3 linked regions of the Homo sapiens genome follow. The protein of the gene in region 1 purifies or fractionates together with the protein of each later gene. This does not show direct contact. Each region holds a gene or a part of one and is shown on either strand. Other genes may lie near its edges.

Region 1 (3,653 bases):
TTTTTCCATTAGCTTCCTTTTTTATATAAAATCTTTGTCTTTTTCATGAATGAAGGATCTTTTCTGTTCCTATATATTAGTTAAATTTTTTAGAAAAACATGTTTTCTTAGGCTCTCTTTATTCTATTTCTTCCAAATTCATTCTGTTTTTTCTTCCTTTATTCTTTCCTTCTTTTCTTCCTTATTTGCTTTCTTCCCTATCTGTTGGTCTGGTCTCTGTCTTTCCTATTGGAGACTTTCCTCCAGTGTCTGGTGATACTTGGCATTCTCTTCATAGTTAAGAGCAAGGCTAAAGAAAAAGAAAATCTGAGTACAAGAGAGAGGGCCTTGGCAACTGGGTAGCATTGCTGTGTGGCAACGGAATGACCCACAGACGTCTCTCTCTACATGGGACCATTCACATTCTCCAGAGTCAGACCCTTCAAGCTGTTATATAGAAAGATAATCCCAGCTGCTACTCTGCTGGCCATTTGGGAATTGGGAAGTGGAGCTCTCAGGACCCAAATGCAGACTTTCTCTTCAACTTCTTATTTGCAGTCTGGCTTCTGCTTCTGCCTTCTGTTGTGCCTGATGCCCCTAAGCCCAGAGCTCCTTGTTCTAATTGTTCTAGAGGATAAACTCCTCCTTCTTGGGAAAATGGGAAAAAAGAACACTTGGCTGCAGGGTGAGGCAGTCAGGCAATCTAACTGCTCCTGATACAGAACTTCAACACATTCCTCTGTGTTTGGCCCCTCAGCTCACCCGCCTTCTCTGTAGTACCTGGTGCCTCCAATCTCTGAGGCCCTCCTGGCTTCATGTAGGCAGATTGGCTTCTTATCACCACCTCCCTCCTCTGCTCTGGAAGCTCTGGAAGGTCAGTTATGTCCTCCCACCTCCTGGCACACATATTGTGTGGCAGGTTTATGAATGTCTCCAAGTTTCACTGAAGATTTCAGTTTCTCCTTCACCTTGTCATTTCTGGGAGACCTCCAATAGAAGTAAGCAGAAATATCTTTATGTCACCATCATGAAAGCAATTTTTCCCCCAAGTAATTCATAATCTACCCCTTTGCTCCCCTGGTTATGTTTCCCTGAGACCACACAACTAAAGTTCTCAGTTCTCTTTCTGACAGTGCCCACCATGGCTCTGCTACTCTCCCTTAAGGTAGCTGACACTTAGACAGTATCCACTGACCTCCTATGGGGACAAATAAGACTTCAACTCCCTCACATCAATCCTCTCTTCTTCCCTCATCTTCCTAAGGCTTTTATTATCATTTTTCAGAGCTCCCTACTGGGGGGTTAACTTTATGATATTAGCACATTCATATCCTTCTTCAGCAGCTGTATGAAGTGCAATTGGCTCCATGTGGTAAGATGAGGCTATGCCCCCTCCTCTGTTTTCTCTCAGCTCTTGCCTTCCTCTATCTCTCAGCTTCTGACATTCATCCTTTCACTTTAGTATTGCCAAGAACATCTTAGGCAAGGTTTTAAATCAATGCAACAGAGATTCCCCTCCTCTGATCCCCACACTCTGCCCCCAAGTAGATTCTTTAAGGGGGCAATTTTCCCAACCATGTGGCCTTTCATGGGGAAGAGGGGAGTCCAGCCCTCCTATGAGGCAAGGGAAGCTGGGGGTCTTTCTCTCCTTTCCAGAGCAAACCTCATGTTTGCAACTTTCCCCATTTCCCATGGCTGGGGACCGTGTGTGCAGGTTTCTGAGGACCCTGAAGCCCTTGATGAATTCTTAGCAGGCAGACTTGACTGCAGCTGCCTTGATGGGCGGGGTGCCAGGCTGAGGCCCACCGGTCAGCCTCTGGCTCATTCTTTACCACTTTCTCTCCAGATCCCCTTCTTGGGAGCTGGGATTAAGATCCATGAGAAAAGGGTGTCAGATAACTTGCGACCCTTCCATGACCGGATGGAGGAATGTTTCAAGAACCTGAAAATGAAGGTGGAGAAGGAGTACGGTGTCCGAGAGATGGTATGGGTGGTTCCTATGGCTTGGAGGGGTGGGATTGTGCAGGGTGGGGCAGGGAAGCATGCTGGAGGCTGAAGTTGGAGGGGATCCAGCAAAGGAAGCTGCTTCCAAAGAGAAGATAATGATGGCCAGCATTGCTGGATCCCATCCAGGGGAACCCTCCTGGAAACTTGGTCCAGCAAAAGTAACCCCCAGACAAACTCCAGTTACAACTGGATTGTGCAGATACCAACTACTCAAGGGACTGTGTAATAATAATGAAAGCTACACTGATGCAGCATCTACTATGTGCCAGGCCTGATTCAAGCACTTGACATCTACTAGGTCATTTAATCCTCACCACAAGCCTGAGAGGCAGGAAAGATTTTTAATCCTTTGTATTTCTTCTGAGGTTCAGAAGGTCAGGCAACTTGCCAGAGGCTATGTGGCAAATGAATGTGGGGCAGAATTTGCATCTGGCTCTGTTAGTTTAAGGCCAGTGATTTTGACCGCTGAGCTCCTTGGCCTAAAGAGGCCATGAGCCTGGTGCTTACGGGGTGCTTCTTCATCCTTTTCCTTATTAACTGGTGTTATAAAATGTCAAGGCCATGCAATTCCTTTAAAACCATCTGGTCCAGCCTTCCCATTTTACAGATGGTAAAACTGAGACCCAGAGAAGAAAAGTGAATTACTGGAAGAACCTACAGATGCACTCAGGTCTCTTGATTCAAAGATTTTTTTCCATGAGGCAGTTTGTCACTTTCAATACTCCCTACATGAAGTCCCTGTAATGCAATTCTGGTGCTAACTCCCTGGAGTTAGGTCACATTTCACAGGTTAGAAGCACAGTCTTAGACACTTCCCACTTCAAACACCAACCATAAGCTTCAGGGACCCAGGCCACCCACACTTCTGCCTAACTGGTTACAAACTGGGAGATTCCCACTACCCCATCAGGTTTCATAATTCACTAGAATAATTCACAGAACTCAGGAAAGCATGATACTTATGATTTCAGTTTATGATACAAATCAAGACCAGCCAGGTAAAGAGACACAGAGTGAGGTCCAGGAGGGTCCCAAACATGAAGTTTCCACGTATTCCAGATGCATCCCCCTTCTGGCACATTGATGTATGATTACCAGCCAGAGAAGTTCACTAGAGCCTAATGTCCAGAGTTTTTATTGGGGTTTTATTATGTAGTCATGATAGATTGAACCATTGGCCATGTGATGGAAATCAGTCTCTGGGCCTGTCCACTCCCTGGAGGTTGAGCTGATACCACATGGCTTAAAGCCCCAGCCCAGCCCTATAATCATAGAGCTGGTCTTTCTGGCCATCAGGAGCCATCTTATTAGCATAAAATCAAGTATGGTCAAGGGGGCCACCATGAATAATAACAAGGATACTACTATCACATAGGAAATTCCAAAGTTTTAGATATTACCTTCCAGGAACCAGGAGTAAAGGTCATCCACATTCTTCATTCTACAAGAACGCCCTAGCCTCAGCCAGCCAGGAACTTTTGTGCTGATGCTCCACTCAGCCCCACAACTCTGCCCTGCCTAGGTGGAGGAAGAAGGTGACAGGAAGGCTGGGGCCACCTTCCCCAGGCTACAGCTGCTAACCACCCTGTTCTCCCACCACAGCCTGACTTTGACGACAGGAGAGTGGGCCGTCCCAGGTCTATGCTGCGCTCATACAGACAGATGTC
Region 2 (3,653 bases), on another chromosome or scaffold:
CCCAACCATCCCATTACTGGGTATATACCCAAAGGATTATAATCATGCTGCTATAAAGACACATGCACACATACGTTTATTGTGGCACTATTCACAATAGCAAAGACTTGGAACCAACCCGAATGTCCATCAGTGATAGACTGGACAAAGAAAATGTGGCACATATACACCATGGAATACTATGCAGCCATAAAAATTATGAGTTCATGTCCTTTGTGGGGACATGGATGCAGCTGGCAACCATCATTCTGAGCAAACTGTTGCAAGGACGGAAAACCAAACACTGCATGTTCTCACTCATAGGTGGGAATTGAACAATGAGAACACCTGGACCCAGGGTGGGGAACACCACACACCGGGGCCTGTTGTGGGGTGGGGGCCTGGGGGAGGGATAGCATTAGGAGATATACCTAATGTAAATGACGACTTAATGAGTGCAGCACACCAACATGGCAAATGCATGCATATGTAACAAACCTGCACGTTGTGCACATGTACCCTAGAACTTAAAGTATAATCAAAAACATAAAAAAAAAATTAAGTGTATTTTTACAGAGGTTGCTTAGGAGCCTTATTTAGTGATTCCCACAGAAAGAATTTGTTCCTGAAGCATTCATGAAAATACAATAAAGATTATTATGTAAAGCAAGAGTCAGCAAACTTTTTCCATAAAGGGCAAGATAGTATGTATATATTTTAGGCTTTTCATACCACACAGTGTCTTGCAACTATTCAGCTCCGCTACTCAAGAGTAGCTATATATAATACATGAATGAGTGGGTGTGGCTATGTTCTAATAAAACTTTACTTAAAAAAACAAGTAGCAGGCTAGATTTGGACTATGGGTCAGAGTTTACTGGCTTTTTGTTTTAAAGAATATAAGCATTGTTTCTTGTGAAAGCTTTACTTCAGTTTTTATTTAATTGCCACTTGGAAAATTTGAATTCAAGTACTTTTATTCCATTATTTATTCAAAAGATATTGAATGCCGTCTAGTTGCCTGTGCTCACTCCAGGTGCTAAGGATGATGGTGGTGGACATGATGGATAAAATCTTGCCTTTAAGGAGCTTACATTTTAGTGGAAGTCTGAAGTTTGTGAAATTAAATGTATATTTTAGATGAGTTAAAGAGGTTAAAGAAATTGTCATTTTAAATTATTTCAGAAATTGGATTTTTGCCTCGTCGGTATTTAACATGGCAGAACTTTTAGAGTGCTCACTGGTAGAATGCATTTAAGGTAATTTTTCAGGGGCCTGCAGTTCACCAGTTTGCTCTCCACACGGCTTGCTTATTCTCATCCTTTAGATTTTCAGCCCAAATGTTAACACCTTATTGAAGCTTTGTCTTCTCTGATCAGCCTATTTGAAATGGCCTCCAACAGTTACTTCTTGTTTTAATCATCATCTTTCCTTAAAAGTATATATATATTTGCAGTCAACCCTCTGCATCTGTGGGTTCCAAATCCATGGATTCAACCACACAGATTGAAAATATTCAGAAAAAGAAATTGTGTCTGTACTTATGTACACATATTTTTTTCTTGTCATTATTCTCTGAACAATACAGACATTAGTGTAATAGCTATTTACATTGTATTAAGTTTTATAAGTAATTTAGAGATGACTTAAAGTGTTTGGGATGAGCCAGTTGCGGTGGCTCACCCCTGTAATCCCAGCACTTTGGGAGGCTGAGGCGGGCAGATCAGTTGAGGTCAGGAGTTCGAGACCAGCCTGACCAACATGGCAAAACCCCATCTCTACTAAAAATACAAAAATTAGCCGGTTGTTGTGGCGGGGGCCTATAATCCCAGCTACTCGGGAGGCTGAGGCAGGAGAATCACTGGAACCCAGGAGGCGGAGGTTGCATTGAGCCAAGATGGCACCACTGCACTCCAGCCTTGGCGACAGAGTGAGACTCTGTCTCAAAAAGTAAATAAAGTGTATGGGATGTCGTACTCAGGTATATGCAAATACTATGCCATTTTTCATCAGGGACTTGAGCATCCATGGATTTTGGTATCCAGAAGGTCCTGGAACCAATCCCATCCCCTTTGGATACCGAGGGATGACTGTATTACAGTCTCTAATTATCTTGTTTACTAGTTATGCTCTTTCATTAGAATGTAAACTCCATAAATTCAGGGACCTTCTCTGTTCTATTCATTGTATCTCCAGCTTGAGCACAGTGTCTGACACATGGTAGTCATTGAATAAATGTTCCAGAGATTGTCTAGTTGCAGAAGATACCAAGTTGTTAACAAGCTACCCTGTACTCAGGAAGCCACATTTTAGTGGAGCAGACAATAAATAAACAACTAGATGTTCTGTATAATTTCAGGTAGTAATGAATTCGGTGGCCAAAAATGAAGCAGGATAAAGGGATAGATATGAAGGGGGCTATTGCCCAGCTACTTTAGCTGGAATGGCCAAGATCTTTCTTGAGGAGGTGACATTTAGTCAGAAATCCACATGAAAGTGAAGGAGTCACAAAATATAGATACCTTAGAAGAATGTATTCCTGGCAGTGAGAAGAGCAAGAGGAAATCCTTAAGAAGGTACATGTTTGAGAAACCGTTATTTCTGGAGCTTGGTGAGGAGGAGCAAAGTAGAAGCATATGACCTTAAAAATAGAGCTCAGTGCCAGATCATGCAGGACCTTGAATAATCTGGTAGATGGACAGTTTGAGAACACTACAACTCCAGAATAAAAAAGCAGTTTTAGACTTGTAGTTTTAAGACAATGCGTGCTCATGTTAAAGCTAAAACTGAGGCTGTGTGGCACTGATTTACATTAGCACTCAGTTCAGATTGGGTGTAATACAATTCTTAGATAAAGCACAGACCATGTGTCTCCACTGAAAGCAAAGCATTCAGTGCCAATCCGGACAGCTAGTGTTTCACTCAAACTAGTTAATCTCTGTTCTTTTTGCTTTCGTTGTTGTCCTCTTTTGGGATATGTGTATCCAAAAGCATGGTGACTACAATAGCATTGTGCTATTGCATGCAAGAGAAACAGCATTGTTAAAATTGTTTATGTAATTTCCATGCTGTTTGCATAAAAATGGTTTCATGAAGTGTTTGTTTGGCACCCGCTCTGTGAAGAGCATTGTCCTCGGTGGTGTGATGTACAATATAAACAGAATATAAACAGAAATCACGGGCACTCAGTAAATATTTGTTGAATAAATGAACTATACAGTTTGTTTTATCCTTATAGTAGATTCAGTTTTTTATACAGAGAAAAAGATGGTTTTTTGTTTTTGTTTTCTGCCAGGTGGAACACCTACATAATTTCATTTTGTTTCGGTTTTCAATGGGCTTCATTGATAGTATTATTGCCAAATGTAAGTATATTTTGAAAGAGATGAGATTTGTGGAAAAGGTGAAATACTGTTACTGTTTTAAATCTTACCTGTTTGGTTTCAGACCTTGCCACTGTTGTTGGTTACCTAGTTGTCAGTCGCCCTTTCTTAGATTTGTCTCATCCTCGACATCTCAAGAGTACACATTCGGAACTTCTAGAGGTAAACTGATGATAATACAATGAAAATGTAACAGTAAAAATAAAGCCAAATTTTTAGTCATAGAACTATAAGTAAAAACTAATATTTATTTCTATTTAAGGATTACTACCAAAGTGGAAGAATGCTTTT
Region 3 (3,653 bases), on another chromosome or scaffold:
GACAAGACTGGATCACATAAAATGACTAGATGGTATGCAAGGCATCATGAGGTGTAATGAAGAGCCAGAATCAGTATGGGCTGGAGGCTGCAAAGTGGCTGTCTTGGCCAAGCTGCATGATGTGTTTTTAAAAATGTTGGATTTAAACTCCTCTAGGCAAGGTGGTACTTTGCAGTGTTACAGACCCTACATGGAGGCTGCTTGTTTTATTTACTTACCTGCTTGGCTGCCCAAGACATTTGAATTTATAACCCTATTAGGCATGCTATGCTGGTTTCATGTGAGTCACTAGAAAATATTTGTTGAGCACTTCTTATTTGCCAGGCATTGTATTAGCTGCTGCTTTGGAACTGATCATAACATTTTCCAAAGTTCTTCCACTGGGAAATAGTAATAATAATAGTGGAACACCAACAAATGCTTTGCCTTTTGTATTGACTTTCCTCCCGGACTGCCTTCACATATGCTCTCTTATTTTGTCAACAATACACAACATACCTGCCTAGCAGGTAGGGCTTACTGTGTTGGGGAAACGTGGTTTCAGAGCTTTTGCAGTTTCTTCAGGTTCACACGGTTAGAATTCTGCTATTATGCTTAGTGCTTTATTATCCCACTTGATGCTCACAACAGCTTTACGGGGTAGAGTTGATGCTAATCCCCATTTTACAGGTAAGAAAATCGTTAGTGCTAAGATCCAAGTTCAGGCCTTTCCCACTCCAGAACACAGCTCCTAACTTGTTAAGCTACACTTCCTCACTAGAAGGCCAAAGTTGGAAGAAAGCTCAAAAACATCTAGTCCAGCCCCCGATGTAGATCAGGACCTGAGGTCCAGAAAGGCTTGTGTTTGTGGCAAAGCTGTGCTGCAGGAGGAGGACTAAACCAGAAGTGGGGGCCTAGGCCTTCTTTTGTCCCTAACTGGTGGCATGGCCTTGCCAGCTTCTCTGGACTTCAGTTCCCTTATTTATGTAATGAAAGGGCTTGGCCTGATTTTACACTGAGAACAATGCTGTGCTGTTATGGTCAGTATTGAAGGAGTTCACAGCCCGAGATTTTAGTTGTAACCCAGGACTCTTCCCAGCACACCACACTCCCTCCCTACCCAAGCTCCATCTCCTTGTGCAATCACGGTTTTCTAAAGTTTAATTCTGAAGTTCATCTGTATTTTCCATCTCAGTTTCTGTTTCCTCTCATTTCCAAAAACTGAGGTAAGTGGTTTGTAAACACTGACTTTTTGTAAATTCATCTCTTCAGTCATTGTGGTTAGGGATTTGGAAAGTTCTAGGCAATTAATAATCCTCAGTCAGTAGTGTTTTCACTCTCTTCTGAAGGCATTTAGGTCTGGAGGCACCCTGGAGGGAATTTTCCTGTGGAATTCTGTGGACACAGCTATGTGGCAGGCAGTGTGCTGCAAACTGGGGGAAGAGTAGATGGGGGAATAGACTTAGGCTTCATGAGTCCTTGCCCTCAGGTTGTCAACTCTCCTGGAGCTGTGGGTCAACCCTGAGCATCTGAGAGTTTATAAATGACCTGGGGTGTGTGTTGATGGTGCACAACCAGAGTTGAGAACCACTGTTTCTCGGACCTTATCTGATCTAGAGCCTATGTCCCAGACTTGAACATGCACTTGAACCACCTCAGGATCTTGTTTGAAGGCAGATTCTGATTGGGTGGGTCTGGGCTCCCAGGGATACTGCCGCTGCTGGTATGCACATCACACCTATCGTAGCCAGGGAAGAGACTGCACATAGAGAATTATAAATCAGTAGGATCAGGAAGGTATGTACAGAAGACTGGGATCACAGATGAGGCTGCAATTAATTTTCCCTGAGGTGAGAGGATTAGGAAAGCCACATAGAAGAGTGATTATCTTAGCTGGGCCTTGAAGGTTGAGTTGAAGTTTGCCAGCTGGACAAGGAAGAGGAAATAATAGCACAAGCAAACATACAGACTCAGAAGAGCATGGTTTTTCAGGGAACAGGTGGTCTGGTGAGAACATGGCATCTGCAAAAGCGAATCTGAAAGCCAGTTCCACCACAGAGCCACGGTGGAACTGGAGTAAGTTGAATGCTCTGCTAAGGAGCTTACTTAAGCACTATTCTTTAAGTATAGGAACACTACAGAAGGTGTCTGTGCAGGATAAGAGAAGACCCAGGCCATTCTTACAGCAGGAATCAAGATGAAGAAACCCAAATAGTTCCCCTGCCCCCACACCCCTTCTCACCACACCTTTGCCTCTATGTAAGTTTGTGGCTTTTTACCATGTGTGAATGAGTCCTGTGTCTAACATACTTCAACAAAAAGGGGAAACCTCAGCTGCTGTTGGTATGGTGGTCCTTCCCAGGGCTTCCAGCAGTAAACATAAGAACCTTAATCTCTGCCAGTCAAATCCTCCCTTTTCTGTACCTCAGAGTCTGATCGTCATTCAGTGGACTGAACTAAGGGAAGTTGAATCACTTCTCAGATGAGAAGATTTCAGAGGGGGAAGCCTTTATAGAGATTGTGTTCTCGATTAGAAAGGGCGTGACTCCAACTTGCCTTCTTGATGAGGTTGCATTCTGTTGCAGGAAACATAAACCAAACTTACCCATGCCTCCTTCACCAAATCAAAAGCCAAATAACTGAACAAAAAGTACACATCCGTTCTTATCCTGAAAGGAATAGGGGGAAGGAGGGGAGCTGGAAACCTGGCATTCTTCATCCCAAATTCCTTACTAATAGGAGGAGATCATCTTTCACTTCATTCCTTAAGATTCGGTTTCCAATCCTGCTCTCAGAATCCAGCTCCGTGAAGCAGCAGTCACTGCATGGGTGATTGATAAAGCTCCATGGGGCTTCTGTAACAGTGCTGATTTTATAAGCACACCTTCTAGAAGCCACTTAGAGACTGCTCCATTGGAGACACTAATGTTCCTATTTTTCTCTACTTTTCCCAGCTCTGTGTTTGAAAAACTGGCCTTTCATTCTTATGACTTATAGTAAAATTGTCATCAGGTCAGTGTGTGCCTGTCTCCTGTTTTGTAGCATTTTGAGTTTTCCAAATCATCCTTATATCTGTAATGCTTAAAGAGGAGTGGAAGGTAGAAGGGTGGGGAGTTGTTTAATCCGGAAGGGGCCCTCTGGGCCTGGATATGGAACTACAGCTCCCTTATGCTGGTGGTTTGCAATTGAGCTACAGTACTGCTGAGTGGCGGAGCAAGAGGCTATTTATAACCCTGAGAATTTTGCAATGTTACTGAATTCCTTTGACCTAATTTCTACTTCCTTTCTAGAATGAAAATGAAGGGAGTAAGCAAACACGTGCTGGAAGGGTTCCCTATAAGGAGATCCTTTATCCTGGGAATATTATCTGGAGAACAGAATTATTTCTAGTCTCCTATCTCCTGATGTTTCTTTTCGATAGGGAGAAAAGCAGAGGGAGGTTTTCCTCTTTCTTTCAACTAGAGTTAGGGGTGCTAACCCTGATTTTTCAGTAAGACTTATTCTAATGTTTGATATGAAAACAACAGTTTTTTATTTTATTTTTATTTTTTAATAGAGACAGGATCTCACTTTGTCACCCAGGCTAGAGTTCAGTGACATGATCATAGTTCACTGCAGCCTCGAACTCCTGGGCTCAAGCAACTCTCCTGCCTCAGCCTCCTGAGTAGCTAGGG

What was found.
Region 2: the proteins of DOCK2 (region 1) and ABCD3 purify together in Homo sapiens (affinity purification with mass spectrometry, with the first as the bait; one large-scale study listed by BioGRID). This does not show direct contact.
Region 3: the proteins of DOCK2 (region 1) and ELMO2 purify together in Homo sapiens (affinity purification with mass spectrometry, with the first as the bait; one large-scale study listed by BioGRID). This does not show direct contact.

What each region holds. Positions count from the first base shown.
Region 1 is NC_000005.10:170,074,122-170,077,774, forward strand, and holds part of DOCK2 (dedicator of cytokinesis protein 2), read left to right. Parts: intron 1-1,825; coding exon 1,826-1,963; intron 1,964-3,588; coding exon 3,589-3,653. UniProt on the Homo sapiens protein: Involved in cytoskeletal rearrangements required for lymphocyte migration in response of chemokines. Activates RAC1 and RAC2, but not CDC42, by functioning as a guanine nucleotide exchange factor (GEF), which exchanges bound GDP for free GTP.
Region 2 is NC_000001.11:94,484,268-94,487,920, forward strand, and holds part of ABCD3 (ATP-binding cassette sub-family D member 3), read left to right. Parts: intron 1-3,274; coding exon 3,275-3,344; intron 3,345-3,426; coding exon 3,427-3,524; intron 3,525-3,624; coding exon 3,625-3,653. UniProt on the Homo sapiens protein: Broad substrate specificity ATP-dependent transporter of the ATP-binding cassette (ABC) family that catalyzes the transport of long-chain fatty acids (LCFA)-CoA, dicarboxylic acids-CoA, long-branched-chain fatty acids-CoA and bile acids from the cytosol to the peroxisome lumen for beta-oxydation.
Region 3 is NC_000020.11:46,400,019-46,403,671, reverse strand, and holds part of ELMO2 (engulfment and cell motility protein 2), read left to right. Parts: intron 1-3,653. UniProt on the Homo sapiens protein: Involved in cytoskeletal rearrangements required for phagocytosis of apoptotic cells and cell motility. Acts in association with DOCK1 and CRK. Was initially proposed to be required in complex with DOCK1 to activate Rac Rho small GTPases.